Linked DNA regions of Homo sapiens. The protein of the gene in region 1 interacts with the protein of each later gene in a biochemical or structural test. Each region holds a gene or a part of one and is shown on either strand. Other genes may lie near its edges.

Region 1 (8,706 bases):
GGTTCCTCATTGGGTACTTCACTTGGAACTGCTTGGTAAGTTATTGTTTTTGCTGGAAATATTCCATCCAAAAATGGCTGCCAAGAAACCTGCCATAATTCTGCATTTGATGGCACATCATACTTGTGCAAGATAGAGCCAGTATAATGCCAAATTTTGTATCCATTATTAACCCGTAACCTGGGAGCACATGTAGCTGTTAAAATATGCTCACCATCCGGGCACCAAGCAAAATATGTAGAATCAGAAGCCACCGGTTTAGAAATAAGTTTGTAGTTTTTCACATCCCACACTTCCATTTGTCCCCTCAGATTTCCAAATCCAGCTAATACTAATATATGTCCATGAGGGCTATAGTAGGCTGCATTACGAGGACCAGTTCCAAAGTCAAATACAGGATCACATTTCAAGTTGAAAATTGTCGCTTTGGCAGGCATAAAACCATATACAGCACAAAACTCAGTAGAACTAGAATTCCAAACTACATCATAAATGGGGCCATTTTTTGCTAGAAAAAGAATATAAAGCCCAAATTAGCAATAAAGAACTATATAAATATTTGTTAGCAAAAGTTACCATCATATAGTACTCACAAACACATCAAACAGATAAAAAAATTTCAAGGAATGTTAACATTAAAATACTCTTACATTATATACTAGGGGGATTAATGTATAATCATAAATTTATTTAAGAACCCCTATTGAATCTTAATTTCTTTTAAACATTTTGGTAATATGGCCTTATAGTAATAGTTTGTTACTATTAATAAATTTGTTTTTGGAAGGGGTAATACGTGCAGATGGTAATCAAAATACAAACTAATTTATTTATTTATTTGTTTATTTATTTATTTATAGAAATGGGATCTTACTTTGTGGCCCAGGCTGGAGTGCAGTGGCATGATCACAGCTTACTGCTGCCTCGACTTCCTGGGCTAAAGGGATCCTCCTGCCTTGGCATTCCAAAGTGCTAGGATTATAGGCATGAGCCACTGGGCCCTATATTTTTAAAAATGCCACATAAGACCAGGTGCGATGGCTCACGCCTGTAATCCCAGGACTTTGGGAGGCCAAGGTGGGCAGATCACCTGAGGTCAGGAGTTTGAGACCAGCCTGGCCAACATGATGAAACCCCACCTCTACTAAAACTAGAAAAATTAGTTGGGCACAGTGGCATGCACCTGTAATCCCAGCTACTCAGGAGGCTGAGGCAGGAGAAGCGCTTGAACCTGGGAGGCAGAGGTTGCAGTGAGCCAAGATCGTGCCACTGCACTCCAGCCTCGGTGACAAAGCGAGACTCCATCTCAAAAAAAAAGCCACAAACACAGGTCATTTTACACAAAGGCAACCCTCTGTTATATTTCTTGGATATCCTTTCAGAATTTTTTTTTGTTTTTGAGATGGAGTTTCACTCTTGTTGCCCGGTCTGGAGTTTAGTGGCACGGTCTCGGCTCAATGCAACCTCTGCCTCCCAGGTTCAAACAAGTCTCCTGCCTCAGCCTCCTGAGTAGCTGGGATTACAGGCATGAGCCACCACGCCGGGCTAATTTTGTATTTTTAGTAGAGATGGGGTTTCGCCATGTTGGTCAGGCTGGTTTTGAACTCCTAACGTCAGGTGATCCACCTGCCTCAGCCTCCCAAAGTGCTGGGATTGATTACAGGCATGAGCCACCGTGCCCAGCCTCTGTCAGCAGTTTTTGATGATGCAGGCTTCCCCCTCACTATCCTTCAACTATACTGTGTAGTTTCATATTTTTATCTTCATCAGCCTACTAAGTGAAAATGTCTATCTTGTTTTCATTTGTATTTTTTAAATTATAAGTTAAGCATCTTTTACTGTAAGTAATTTTATTTCTTTTTCTATGGGCTGATTTTTTTTCTTCTTCTTTTTTTTTTTAAAGAGATGGTCTCATTTTGTCACCAAGACTGCAGTACAGCCGTAGGATCTTAGCTTGCTGCAGCCTCAAATTTCTCGGCTCATACAATCCTCCCACCTCAGCCTCCTAGATAGTTGGGATTATATGCATGAGCCACTGCACCGGCTCTGAGGACTAATTTTTACTATCCTATGCCTATTTTATTTTTCTCCAATTATTGGTCTTTTACTTGGCTTACTTGATATATTAAGAAAATTTGACCTTCCTCATACTTATCACTTGACTATTTAAAAAACATATTTTCCCCAACTTTTTGTTCATTTTGCTTAATTTATGGACTCTTTTCTTCTCTCATTGTAATAATCCATTATTCTTCTCTAGTCAAATTCATTATTTTTTCCCCTTAGTACTTCTATCTTGTTTAAAAAGTCTTTTTCTACTCTTAAGATTAGAAAAAAAATTCTCCCATATATTCTTCTAATTCCTCTGCAGTCTTATGTATAAGTTTTTGACCCAACCAGAATTTATTTTGTGAAGAAGATAATAACCTTTTGTTTCGAATGGCTAGCCAGTTATCCCAAACCACATATTAAATGATCAATATTTTCTCCTCCATTGATTCAAATGCTGACTTTATTATATATTAATGTCTACAAAAGTATGGATCTACTTCTGGACTCTGTTCTCTTCCACTGATTTATCAGTTTTACCAGTATATCCATATACCACAACCAAACTGTCTTAATTACAATTGGCTTACTTTTTTTTTTTTTGTGACAGAGTCTCACCCTGTCAGCGGGCTGGAGTGCGGTGGCACGATCTTGGCTCATTGCAACCTCCCACTCCTGGGTTCAAGCAATTCTCATGCCTCAGCCTCCCGAGTAGCTAGGATTACAGGCATGTACCACCACACCCAACTAATTTTTGTATTTTTAGTAAAGATGGGGTTTCACCATGTTAGCCAGGATGGTCTTGATCTCCTGACCTCATGATCTGCCCGCCTCAACCTCCCAAAGTGCTGGGTACATTTTAATATCTGGTAGTGTCAGAACTCCAGATAACTTCCCCTGCCCTGCTCTTCTTTTACACAAGTTTCCAAAATATTCTTGTGTGTTCATTTTTCAACACCAACCTTACAGCCAGTTTATTTAGTTAAAAAAAAAAAATCAGTTAGCATTTAAATTTAGTTTTAGACTGACAAGAGAGAAATGACATCTTTATAAAAATAATTCTTCTTAGTAAAGGTCATAGTTTGTCTCTCTGAAGAGTTTTAAAGTTTTCTTCTCATTGGCCCTATATATTTGTTCTTATTATTTTTGCTATATATGGAATCTTTCATTTTTTTAAAGTAGCTGTTATAGTGTGACTTCATCTACATGAGCAGAGATGATTTTGTTTTCTTTCAAAACTGTATATATTTTACTTCTGCTGATTATAGTGACTAGGTATTTCAGAATGTTATTAAAATAAAGTGAAAAGGGGAGCCATCCTTGTTTTTTCTCTGACTTCAATGGAAATAGTTTTTTTAAAACATAGATTACCCTACTTACACATGTTCAATTCAAAATGAGAAAATTAGGACGCTATCAGTATTTTAAAACTATTATTTTAAAGTTTTAGTTCATTAAAACAACAGATGAAGTGGTAACATTCTTGGATATTATTATTTTGAGACAGGGTCTCGCTCTTTCACCCAGGCTGAAGTACAGTGACATGATCATAGCTCACTGCAGCCTTGAACTTCTGGGCTCAAGTGATCCTCCTGCCTCAGTCTCCTGAGGAGCTGGGACTACAGGCATACGCCACCATGCCTGGCTAACTTTTTCTATTTTTTGTAGAGGTAGGGTCTCACTATGTTGATCAGGCTGGTCTTGAACTCCTGAGTTCAAATGATCCTCCCATCTCAGACTCCCAAAATGTGTTGGAATTACTGGCACGAGCCACCATGCCTGGCCTCTTGCATATTACTAACAATTCTAAAGACAGTATTAAGCAATTTGCCGTCATAATTAGCTAAGTAAGTTCCAAAAGAGCTACTACAATGGAATTACCTTACTCAGGAAGTTCACTTCTAAAACGATGGCGTAACTCAAATAACTAATTGTATTCTGCCAAAATAAGGTATGTTGGAGGATGATTTTTAAGTTTCTTAATTAAGAAAAATTTTATCTTAAAGGTTATTAAGGCATATGAATTCTATCTTTTGATCAAGAATTTAGATTATATCATCTTTATGGCATAGTATTTTTTACTATCATTGTTTCTAATCAAAGGAAGACTGCTGGAATACTCACGTAATTGCACTACAGCACTTTCTCCATTTGTTGCAATGTAGTGTAGAGTTTGTTCTCCATAGTAGGAAGCTCCTGTCTTGTCAACATCTGTGCTAGCTATTACCAACACAGCAGTAGCTATAACAGTAAAAACTTTAATTAGATTTAAAACACAAATGGGCATTGATTCTTCTGTTATACACATAGGAATATAGCCTAAATTAACAACTGATAAACAAAGGGAGGGATAAAATATACTTAACATACCTTTTTTATTCCACAGCATTGTAACTTTATCTGCCTTAAAGAAACTTTTATTAGCTAAAGCTGCATGAGGTCCAGCAAAGTTGGGGTACTGATATAATCTAACAAATGAAGGTGCACCTTTACTTCCTGGAACATAGACAGCCACCTAAGATACATAGACATAAATCATTACTTAATTTTTTGAAGAATAAAAACTGAGATGGACATGTTTTTACAATCACAAAAAACTAGGAAAAGGTTTAAACACATAATATTACACATAAACAAAAACAGCAATTACCTTGTATGGTTGGGGTCCAGGTGATAATACAAAATCATTAATTTTTTGCAAATGCAATTTATTTGCAATTGTGTCTAAAAAAAAGAGTAAATTAAATCAGATTGATGAGAGAACCTAAAAGGAACATGTTAAACTCTGAATACATTATCAAAGATCACTATAACTACACACCAATACTACTCACTGTAGTCTCCTCCTGGTGAGATACAGTAACACAGTGGAAAAAGCATGGGGTAGGAGCAAGACAAATGTAGGCTTCAATTTCTACTCAGTCATTTACTTGCAGTGTGAGCTTAGGCAAGTAATGGGATTATACCACCCAACTCTCAGTAATTGGTTTTAAGAGAAGAGTGCCAGGCACATGGTAGGTATTTGATAAATGTCAGTTATCCTCTCTTCAATCGCTGAAATAAAGTGGTCTTAGAGCCTATTAGAAGGAAAAGATCAACCTTGGCCTGCTACTGCAGAATGTGGATATGGAAATTCTGTAACTTAATGTGATAAACAGATGCATGATAATGATGATCACAACCACAGTAACAATGGCTGATATTAAGAGCTTACTCTATTCCAGGCAGTCTGAGCCATGCTATTATTAATAAAACTGCCACTCTAGTTAATTAGATCAAGAGCTAATATACTTTCTTTGTTCAATTTCAGAGATCAATGGCTTTTCAAAAGCAGCACACCAAACTGTCAAAGTGGTGATCCCTCTTCATTTGACATGCTCACAAAGAGGAGAATAAGACAAGAAAGCAAGCTAACCCAGAAACAGTGAGGTGACAGTGCGCCTCAAACACAGGAAAATAAAATGCATAACTATACTGATTGGATGCTGCTCAAAATCAGCCTACATGCCATCTTTGGTACGTGTGAACAAAGTTACCAATTCCTATTCTAACTATGATATACTCAAAACTGTACAATCAGTAATGGGATGCTCTAAAGACAAAAGAACTGCAAACCCTTTTTAAAAAATTATTTTCAGTAACAGTGTTACTTTTTGGTATTAAGATTGTAAGAATACCTTGTGGATAATGTGGAACAAACCAAATGAATACTTATGTGAATGTGATATTCTCAAATTATCATCCCTGGTATTCCAGAGTAACAAGATTCTTGGTGGTGACAGAAGGCAATACAAATAAGATAGAAGTTAAATAAAAACCTTGTAGTCTTCAATTTAAATAAAACTATACGTATAAAACTTTAATTTAAATAAAATTATGATTGTTACATCTTTTAAATAGAAAAAAAAGGCCTAGAAACAATGATCAATGCAACAGCAAATAAGAATCTCTAGAACCTAAATACCTTTTTTTTTGCTAGACTCAGCCAATTTTTCAAGAAACCCTATTACCTTTTAATGTTTCCTTCAATGAGATCAAGAGCTAATACTTTTTCTTTGTTCAATTTCAGAGATCAATAGCTATTCAAAAGTAGCACACCAAAAAGGCGACAGGGTTTCCTGAAAAATTAGCCAGTTCTAGGTGTAATGGTTAGAAATGTACAAATTAATCCTAGAATGACTTGTCTTACCATATAGCAAAGAAGTCACTAAGGATTAATTGATCAAAGATGAGACAATTTGAGCATCAATAAGAAAAATAACTACAATGGACTGAAACACATACCTTTTAAATCCACAGCTCATTAAGAATGGGACTAAAAAGGCCAGGCGTGGTGGCTCACGCCTGTAATGCCAGCACTTTGGGAGGGTGAGGCAGGTGGATCACCTGAGGTCGGGAGCTCGAGACCAGCCTGACCAACATGGCGAAACCCCATCTCTACTAAAAATACAAAATTGGCCGGGCATGTTGGCACATGCCTGTAATCTCAGCTACTCAGGAGGCTGAGGCAGGAGAATCGCTTGAACCTGGGAGGCAGAGGTTGCGGTAAGCCGAGATCGCACCATTGCACTCCAGCCCGGGCAACAACAGCGAAACTCCATCTCAAAAAAAAAAAAAAAAAAAAAAAAGAATGGAACTAAAAAACAGCCTGGGCAACATAATGAGATCCTGTCTCTACAAATAATCAAAAATTAGCCGGGCATGGTGGTGCAAGCCTGTAGTCCCAGCTACTTGGGAGGCTGAGGCAGGAGAATTGCTTGAGCCCAGGAAGTCGAGATTGCAGTGAGCCATGATTGCACTCAGCTTGGACAAAAGAATGAGGCCCACTCTCGAAAAACAAGAATGGGGAAAAAGCTAATTGGTTACAATGAAGGTTGCTAGAGGTGGAATACATTATATTAAAACTGATAAGAGCAAGAATATTTATCCCGCCTTTTCTATATAAATGCAGCACTAGGTAACCAAATAGTAGAAGGGGAAATTTTTCTTTATAGAAGCAGTACAGCTGAAAAATAAGTGAGGGAGAAAAAACCAGAGTATCAACAATTTGCAACCACTGATGAAATAATGCATCCAGGCATGAAACATTAATGTCAGCTAAGCCTACAAAATTAAAGACAACCAGACATTATGTGCTTCTTGATAAAAGAAGTGAACATCACCTTATAATGTAGTCTTACCCTTACTCACCTAAAAAAGAACCTGAAGCTGAAACTCTAGAGCCAACTTGCAATTTATAGGGGACAGATGAACATGTTAAATTATACCATGGGATACAAAAGCAAAATTCAAACTATGGGAAAACGTGAAAGACAAATAACCTTGTTTCTTAAACAATAAATTATGAAGAATAAAATAACAGATAGAGTGGGAACTTATAGGACCAAAAGAAACATAAAAGATATATCAATCAACCACAATGTGCAGTACCTTATTTGGATCCCGAGTTTTAAAAAAAATTGTAACATTTGCAATTAGTAGAAATTTGAACACATATTTAATAATTTGTGATAATGGTTTTGTGGCTAAGTTTAAAAAATGAAAGGCCCCAATCTTCAGAAATCTACTCTGAAATATTTACAATTACATATTTAACAAGTATATAAAAGTATAACCATATCTGGGATTTGCTTTCACTTAGTAAGAGATGGTAGCTGGAGAGATGTATGGATGAGATAAGATTGGCCACAAGCTGATGGTTACTAGAACTAGGTGTCTGAAGTTTAAAATTCTACACGATAAAATATCTAAAAAATTTGTGTCACAGAATTTCAATAGCAATTAAATTCAGGAAAAGATATTCAAATGTCTTAATAGCAATTACCAGATAATAAAAAGTTATTGTAAAAGAAAACCTTTGTGTTACAGATTTTCACTGAATTCAGACTTATAAAGAATTATGCAAATGTATGTAAGAGTAATTATTGATTAATAGATTAACAGTATTTAGGAAAACCCTATGATGTCATAAAAGTTAATGGAAACTGTATACGATTACAGTAAGTAATAAAATTATGTCATAAATCTTTCCATACTAAAATTGTTGTTTTCAAAGAAGTGAACTTCATTGTTAACATTGCGGGCACAAAGAGTTTCATCTTCTGACCAGGATGGACACCTATGTCAATGAAAAAAAAAAAAAGTATAAAAAATATTCAGACAGAATGTAACATCACATTAACATGTTAAAGTAATTTATGATATTGGTTACCATTTAAGGAAAAACACTTATAAACACTTATAAATATGATATTAAGTCAGTTACTAATAGTTTTAGTCAATATATGTTAATAGAAAAGGCCAGGTGCGGTGGCTCACACCTGCAATCCCAGCACTTTGGGAGGCCAAGGCAGGTGGATCACCTGAGGTCAGGAGTTCAAGACCAGCCTGGCCAACATGGTGAAACCCCATCTCTACTAAAAATACAAAAATTAGCCAGGCATGGTGGCACGTGCCTGTAGTCCCAGCTACTTGGGAGGCTGAGGCAGGTGAAATTGCTTGAACCTAGAAGGCAGAGGTTGCCGTGAGCCAAGATCAGGCCATTGCACTCCAGCCTGGGTGACAGAGCGAGACTCCCTCTCAAACAAACAAAAAAAAGAAAACATTGTTCCTTTCCACTTAATACTAAAGGAAAGAAGGATCAAGTTTTTGCTCTAT
Region 2 (8,706 bases), on another chromosome or scaffold:
TATAAAATTAAACAATATAACTTTTCTTCTTTGGATCACCTAAGATAAACTTTTTATTCTTTTTTTTTTTTTTTTTTGAGATGGAGTCTCACTCTGTTGCCCAGCCTGGAGTGCAGTGCTGTGATCTTGGCTCACTGCAACCTCCGCCTCCTGTGTTCATGCCATTCTCCTGCCTCAGCCTCCCGAGTAGCTGTGACTACAGGTGCCCACCACCATGCCCGGCTAATTTTTTATATTTTTAGTAGAGACACGGTTTCACTGTGTTAGGCAAGATGGTCTCGATCTCCCGACCTCATGATCTGCCCGCCTTGGCCTCCCAAAGTGCTGGGATTACAGGCGTGAGCCACCGTGCCTGGCCTGAACTTTTTATTCTTAATTGAATTCACTTTATTTATTTATTTATCGAGATGGAGTCTTGCTCTGTCATCCAGGCTGGCGTGCAGTGGCGCAATCTTGGCTCACTGCAACCTCTGCCTCCTGGTTCAAGTGGTTCTCCTGCCTCACCCTCCCGAGTACCTGGGACTACAGGCGTGAGCCACCATACCTGGCTAATTTTTTTGTGTTTTTAATAGAGACAGGGTTTCACTATGTTGGCCAGCCTGCTCTCAAACTCCTGACCTCAGGTGATCCACCCACCTCTGCTTCCCAAAGTGCTGGGATTACAGGTGTGAGCCACCACACCTGGCCTGAATTCACTCTTACTCATTATTATCCTTCCACTTTATATTTCCATTATTTAAAATTGCCAGTTAATTGGTAAAGGTGTCATAAAAATCTATAGAATTCCATAATGCGTGATTAAGCTAAATGTATTTTTCTCCTTTCACATCTACTAATCATTTCTTCCTTATTGTCCTCCATCAGAGTGGATAATTTAAGCATTTCATTTCTTTCTTTGTTTTTACATGTAGAGATTTTTATTGCCGTGATTTCAGAAAGGAAAGCTAAGATGTTGGCAAAATGTTTGATACGAAAGATAACTCTAGAATTTTAGTTTTAGAAAATCAAGTAAAATCTGTGGAAGAGGTAAATATTTTGACATATAATGAGACAGTGTTTAAAGGTCATCAATGTTTGTAAACAGAATCATACCTTCTTCTGCATTTTGTAACCACTCAACAAATTTCTTCATCTGGTCAAGAAAAACACTTTTGCCTTTAGCAACATGTGCTTCCTTATACCATTTCAGTATTGCTTCTTCGCTCAGAACATCAGCTGCAATTTTAAATCAAAGATTTCAAAGTTACTATACAAATGTCATGTTTCAAAACAACTTCATGTATTACAGTTTAATAGAAAGCAATCATTTTAAATATAAAGCATTCTGTTACTTATCAGAAGAGAGGAACCAAGTTGATTTTCATGTAGCATAGTGCCATATTTTGATAGCTTACTAAAGGCTTAAGTACTGATGATGATGATATACATCTTCTTAGGCATGATATAATGCAAGCCTATAGCTCACTACTAGGACTTGGAAATCTCTCACAGTGCTAATTTGCTGGTAGGAAATAGAATTGTTTTGTAATTTTGCAAATGAACCAGCAATTCCAGCATTTTAGAACATTTTGGGTCCTGCCAAGTTCAACCATATCTTGATTAAAGAGTAACCTCAAATGACCAGTGTCTTTTAAGGAGATTGGGATTTTCTTTTTTTAGGAGAAAAATGACAAAGGAAAAAAATGTAGATAGTATGCAATAATGATGTTAGCAATTAGATATAAAGAGGAACTTCTGGGCTATGTTGTGGGAGTAATACACACCTAAACTGAAGTTCTACACTTTCTCCATCACTAAATCACGACTTATTTTCCCACAGTATATCCCAAATTACAAGAGTAATATTTTTCCTCTACTACATTAAGACAAAATAGACATATTAGCTAATTTCCTACAGGTTTCTAAAAACAACAAAAAATGTTAACTATCTTTTGTCTAAAACTCTAAATTCCACAAATGTGCCTTGATATTCTCAACATAACATTAATTGAGAGTATTTAATGTTAAGAATAGGAAGGAGAATATAAAAATAAGTGTACATAGTCTCCCAATGTTCTAATGGGTTGTTCTAACATTCTTCTAATGTTCCAATGTTCTAATGGGTTGTTGTTTGGGAATCTGTAGTGGGAAACGAGACAGAAAACAGGTACAAAGCATTTATTATTGTCCCCGAGATGTGCTCAATTCATTACAAATACTGATAAAGCCATATAATGTTAATAAATTACTTTAATGATATCTTTTCAGTTAAAATATAATTTCAACTTATGAAAATGACAGAAACAATTTAATATTGTTTTCATTTAAAACATCACTGGTAGTTTCATAACAAAAACATTGGCTTTTTTTATTTTTAAAGAATTATTGGCTCTTGGAAAATGTTCTTGAATTAAATTGAAGAGGCTGAGCTGACTAAAATGAACATGATTTGTTTATGAAAATAAAAGGTTTTTTAAAAAAACATGTTTATTATCATCACTAAAAACATTACATTTTGCAAAGGAAGCAAGAAGTCTGGATTTACTTATAGAGCCTGGATGTAAGAGCTACAATCAGGGGTCCTGTAGACTTATTCTTAGCTTCTAGTTATTTTAGCTCTTTGTTTCCAGCTCTCCACTGAGATAAAAGAAATTTCTACCAGCCATCAGAGCCTAATTGTCATAGAGCTGAGGAGCAGGCAGTTGTGTCCCGAGGAAGTGACCTGTTATTGTGTAAGACTGCCTTGCAGAGACTTTTAAAGAACATTAACAGGGATTTTAAAAGACCCTTTTATATAACTTGTAAATTATCTTTAAGATGCTTATGATTAGATCAGTAATTATCAAACTGTTTGGATCATGTCTTCCTGCCTGTAGGATAATTTTGAGCATATACACCCAACATATGTATATTTTTGAGTTTATAAATTATATTCATGCACTATTAAACTATCATTATTAATGTTCTGCACAAACAATATAATTTTAAACTGTGACAAACATGGAAAGGAGAATTGTTTTTTTTCTCCACACCTTAATGAATTGAGGATGATACAAAGTACAGGTTGGAAAGCTGATGTAGACTGCAGTTTAGTGATACTATTTGTCTGAGCTTTCCTTTTGAAGGTTGAGAGCACATTCCTGTGTTTTATTGCCTCACAGAGGCTGAAGGAGACCATGCAACTACTAAAATGCTTGTCAATGTCAGTGCTTGTGAAAAGCACACTAAATGATAGGTAAAACCTATCAAATGCATTGTTTATTGCAAATCTTGTGCCTTGATATTCTTAAGTTACCATTAATTGAGAATATTTAATGTTAAGAATAGGAAGGAGAATTTAAAATAAGTCTACATATTAACGGCGCAATGTGGAGTTCTTAGAAGAACCCAGGGTAGTAACAACTACTTGCTGAAAGATCAAACTTCTAGTACCAGAGAATTATTAATTAAAAGCTACTGAAGTATCTACACAGAGCACCATATGAGGCAAAGTATGAACATCGAAGAGTTTAAGAAGAAATTAAACTTCTATTTAGTGAAAGGAAAGGTCTGAAAAGGAAGGAACTCCTTGAGGGACAAAGAATTCAGACAATTTTTTCCCTCACTAAGGATAAAGTAGGGAAAAGAGTTAATTAAAACTGAGAAACCATTTTTGGTGGGATATTTCATAAATGCCTATTAGGAATATAGAATAACAGTAAAAGACAGTAAGAAAGGAAGACATTGTATGATGGCACATAGAGACTGGAATATATGTTTTCCCCTTCTATCTGGCCAACTTCTTCATAATGTCTGGTGAGATACATGTACCTTGAGAGCCTTCACTTCTCCCCCTCCAAATTACCTTTAACAAGTTAGGTGCCCTCCCTCTGTGGTCCTATCCCTTCTGACACCCTCTGTGTGAGGCTTATTTCAGCAATTGACATGGTGAGTGTAATTCTTTGTTTTCTTCTACATCCTGAAATTCAGGAAGTCAGGGACTATATTTTGTTCATCTCATTTCCAGCATTTAATGAAAGACCTGCCCTATAGTATCGATTCAACACACGTTTAAGGAATAAATTTGTTAACTTGATGAGAAAAAATAAATATTTCTCAATTTGTAGAGTTCTAATGTATTCATGAGGATCGAAGAGACAATACTGTAAAAGTGGCTTGAGAACTGCTAAATTTTAGATCATGTTAGTTATTTAGAAACTTAGTCTGAAACTATGTCACTTGAAACTCTTGAAATTCAGAAATTTTTTTATTAGGAATGTCACATAGGGACACAAGTCAAAAATAATTTACCCTAAGAATGCTGGGAATATATGCTGAGAAGGGCACTCACCCTTTTTTAGAACTAGAATAAAAAACTCCTTTTAGAAAAATTTGCATGCAGGATAGAATTTAACCTAAAAAATTTCTGCAAACAAGAAAACCCATGATAGAGATAATAACAGTACTTGACAAGGTAGTTTTACACATTTTAGACCATGCTGAGTCTATGGGACTTATCTTCAGGGAAAAAAGAAGAGAAAATTATTTTTAAAAGTCAATAATGTGATGCTTGAAAGTTAGCAATGGATTTACTGTTTCTTACTACCTTAAAAATATGCAAATCTAGATTTTAATACAGAGAGTCTTTGCAAAATGACCCATCACCACTTTTTTCTTTGCTGACTAGCATTATTTAGTTTATTTGCTTTTATTCCACTGTTATTTATGTAAAAGATTTATAAATCTTTCAATAATGATATTCAATTAAGTAATTAGATTTGCCAAGGGGGACATGGCTAATCATATGCCCAAGTTTCTGCTATCATCAAGTTCTGGACATGTTGGGAAAGGGGAGGTGTGTGTGTGTCCATGTATATGTTTGTGTGTGCTCTGTGTGTCAGAGAGAGATAAAAATGAAAATTAAAATGGAGCAACGGTTTCCATTACATTTTAAAAACTTGTTTTAGAGCACTACGTTCCTTATGACAAACAAAAGGAATCCACAGAAACTTGGTAAAAGAAGCAGAGAAGACACTACTCCATATGTGTAAAATGTGGGTATGTACATGAAATCAAAGGTAAGTATAATCTTGAACATGTCACTGGAGTTCATAGCATCTGTTGCTTCTTGAATGCTATACACTTTACACCAGTGGTCCTGGTACAACAGTCAGAGCATCAGCTTGGAAACTTGTTAAAATGAAAATTCTCAGGCCCAACCCTGGCCCTACTGAATCAGAATCTCTGGGGGAGCTGTGTTTTATAACAAGCTCTCTGGGTAATTCTTAGGCATATTAGGAAAGGAGTGCTTTAACACTCACTGTTTACTAAGTCTCCCTCTAGGCATATAAAACACGGAATGAGAGCATCCAAATCTTTACAGAAACAAATCAAATACATGTCTCCTGGTGCACAAGTGTTTGGTGGACAAAATAAGGTGAAAGTAAAAATCTGGCAAAAAAGAGACAAGATGGTAAACATAGTTAACACAGTAACGCTCTTAACGGTGGTATGGAACAATCATTCCTCAGGGATTGCATGTTCTCCAGAGAAAACATGGAATCATTTCACTTAAGAAAACAGACTATATATATCATTCTGTGGAAAATTACAAAATTACCTAGAAAATGGTATTGAAAATGTTAGTTCAGTGATGTGTTTTAGGTTTACATTTTTAAAAAAGTTTCCCAATTTCATTTCCAAAAATAACTAAGGCAGAAATAAAATTGATGTTGACACTCACCCTTCCTGTGTTCCCTGGGGCCAGGTCATACTTGCCACAGACCTCACTAACTTTAGGTTATTTAAACGCTGATTACCTAGTTAATCAATGAGCCTAAGAGCTCATGCCTCTTCTTTTTACTTCCTAGTGCTTACTTCTTGAGTTATTTTCTAATTTCAGGTCATACTGACCCTTAGCATCTGGGGCTGATGAAGAAGAAAAAACTCAAAGTAGCCAGTTTTACTACCTGTCAGTAGTTGTTATAAGAAGTCTAAGTCTAAAGGAAAAGGAGGTTGGCATTAGTGGTTAAAATGAGAAATCTGAAGGATTTTAATAGTTCATGTGCCACCTAGATGTCATTTCCCGTAACAATGGGTTTGCTGATTCTTTGTGATTTCATTACAATAATACGATAGGGTGCTCCTGAAGATGAGACTCCGACAACGATGTCTCAGTTAAAAAAAAAAATTGGTGAGAAACACTGGTTGGGTTATCTTTTATATGACAAGAAAGCAAACTATGTTCAGGTAACTAACTAGTTTACGAACAGTTTGGTTTTCCGTAGTGGAAAAAATTGACCACCCTCAAAACAAATGTGAAACCTGTCCCATAGGTCTCTCTGCCAGTTTTACAAATGGAGCCAGCTGTGGCCACAGAAGGTTGGGCCCCACTTCTCGTTCTTGGCTGCTGGGTACCATCTATGAATTGGTAACATGGCTTGCAGGTTTGGTTCTGATGGGTGGATCACTTTGGGTATCATTGGGTGGGGCCTAGTTTTAGGACACTGCTATCTTATGACTAAATCCAAGAAGACCCAACTCAGGTCTGGTTGGAGAAAATACCAATTACTGAACTTCAAGTGGCAATGGGTGGCCATCATATTTTCCTCCTGACTATTATAATTGTTGCTGAATACCTCTGTGCCCTGAAAAAGTAAAATATCACCCAAACACTTGTGGACAAGATTCATTCATTTGAGGAATCTACGTGGCCAATAAAAATTCATTGTGAAATGCTATTAAGCATTTTTAAAAGAGCTATTATTTATCTAAAACCTTTATTTTCCAAATTCCCAAGATATAATTCAAAAGAGACAAATTTAGGAACACATGAAAGGGAAAATAAACATTTGGCTGGTATTATTTTAACTTTTCTGATATGATATTTATGAACATAATAACATAAAATAAACATGTTATAATGTTCAAAATGTACCACTTCTTAAGTGTTCCTTTTTCTCCCTCACAAAACTACATAAATGTAGGCCCAAAAAATAGCCTAGGACATTTCTGTATGCTGTAGGTATACAGATTGGGATCGGTTAAAACCTTTAGCATTCATATTTTAGTGCCAGTTGTCATAGCAACCTAATCCTTATAAATACAATGAAAAGACAGTAAATGTGAAAACCTAAAAATAGCCATTCCCTTGGAAAACAGGAGAATGGCTGGGCCAAGTAACTAAAATACAAAGTAAAAAGGCTAATTACTTCAGTAATTTTAAAGTCAGATTTATGGTACCTAAAAGAGTCTGAACATAATATATATACTATTTTGATAATCATTGTTATTAGAGCTAATCCTTACAATTCAAAAACAGGCTCAATTTTATATAATTACATTTTTTTTCCACCAACCCCAAGAAACAATTACCAGTTCATCTACCAATGAGAAGTGCCCAGGGGCCTAAGCAGGGTTTCCAAGGCAACGCATATATGGCGTGTATGCCTCCTCTCTCTACATGGTATGGTTGCCTCAATAAAACTTTCACAAATTAGCATCTTGCTGTCCCTCTCTAAACAGAGCCCCATGACCTCCTCTGCCTCATTGCCTGCTCTGCCTCTCAAAGAGCTTCAGCAAAACACAGAAGCACAGCAGTGGCACGTGGATGGATACCTTTATAAAAGAGAACCACAATCTTCTGAAAGGCTTTCATGAAATGGATGTTGTCGTAGCAGTATTCCTGAACCTTCTGGAGGAGGATCAGCTCTGACTGGCCTTGGGAGCTGAACACGGCCAGCAGGGGAGCATATTGCTAGAACAGAAGTGGAGAGTAAAAGCCGTCACTTGCGTGGGAGGTACAGAGCCGACACTGCTGGAACTATAACAGTAACCTGGAGGGTTGCTTAGAAAAGACTGACTTTCAGGATTGACACCTTTTATCATCATATTGTGCCCAATGGGGTGAGGGGAACAGAACAGTAGGAACAAAGCAGTATAGTCGACCTGTGAGGGAACTGGGAAGAAGATTCACATTTTTTCAATGGCAGAGCCACAGTCCAATAATACAATGGATATTCTATGAGGATATGACCTCATTTTCGAAATATCCCTTAGACATAGCAGGCCAGCAATTATCTTTAATATAGGCAGATTCTCATATTTGGTCTCTTAGTGGGTACAGGGAAGGAATCTTGATGAGCTGCTGGGATAAAAAGCATTCATTTAGAAATATCCTTGACTTTCTGACACTGAGGCATAGCCATTGTTTTTCTGAGACTTACTCAATTCAATACTTATCTCTTCCAAAGGGCCTTCCCTGATCAAAGTAACATGGACAGTTTACTCACTGCTATGTTCTCATGAACGCTGGGTGCAAACTTGGAAAAAAATTAGGAAGTATATGTTTAGTCTGAGTCTAGGGTAATTGTAGTTGGAACCCATTTGTCATACTCTCAATTAAGACAAATTTGGGCCCGGCGTGGTGGCTCATGCCTGCAATCCAACACTTTGGGAGGCCAAGGCAGGAGGATAGCTTGAATGCAGGAGTTCAAGACCAGCCTGGGCAACACAGCGAGACTACATCTCTACCAAAAAATGAAGAAATTAGCCAGACGTGGTGGCACGCGCCTGTAGTCCTAGCTACCTGGGAGGCTGAGGAGGGAGGGTGGCTTGAGCCCAGGAGTTCAAAGTTGCAGTGAGCGCAGATCGTGCCACTGCACTCTCAAACAAACAAACAAACAAACAAAAAAAGCTGCAGTTTGCCCTTGGCTGGGTCAGTTCCTTGCTAAGGGCTGTTACCTTCAG

What was found. The genes of interacting proteins can lie anywhere in the genome.
Region 2: the proteins of EIF2A (region 1) and BZW2 form a complex in vitro, tested with the Homo sapiens proteins (one study listed by BioGRID).

What each region holds. Positions count from the first base shown.
Region 1 is NC_000003.12:150,563,760-150,572,465, reverse strand, and holds part of EIF2A (eukaryotic translation initiation factor 2A), read right to left. Parts: intron 8,168-8,706; coding exon 8,085-8,167; exon of another isoform or gene 5,360-8,084; intron 4,774-5,359; coding exon 4,700-4,773; intron 4,565-4,699; coding exon 4,420-4,564; intron 4,291-4,419; coding exon 4,174-4,290; intron 509-4,173; coding exon 1-508. UniProt on the Homo sapiens protein: Functions in the early steps of protein synthesis of a small number of specific mRNAs. Acts by directing the binding of methionyl-tRNAi to 40S ribosomal subunits.
Region 2 is NC_000007.14:16,697,056-16,705,761, reverse strand, and holds part of BZW2 (eIF5-mimic protein 1), read right to left. Parts: coding exon 8,701-8,706; intron 7,715-8,700; coding exon 7,576-7,714; intron 1,216-7,575; coding exon 1,093-1,215; intron 1-1,092. UniProt on the Homo sapiens protein: Translation initiation regulator which represses non-AUG initiated translation and repeat-associated non-AUG (RAN) initiated translation by acting as a competitive inhibitor of eukaryotic translation initiation factor 5 (EIF5) function.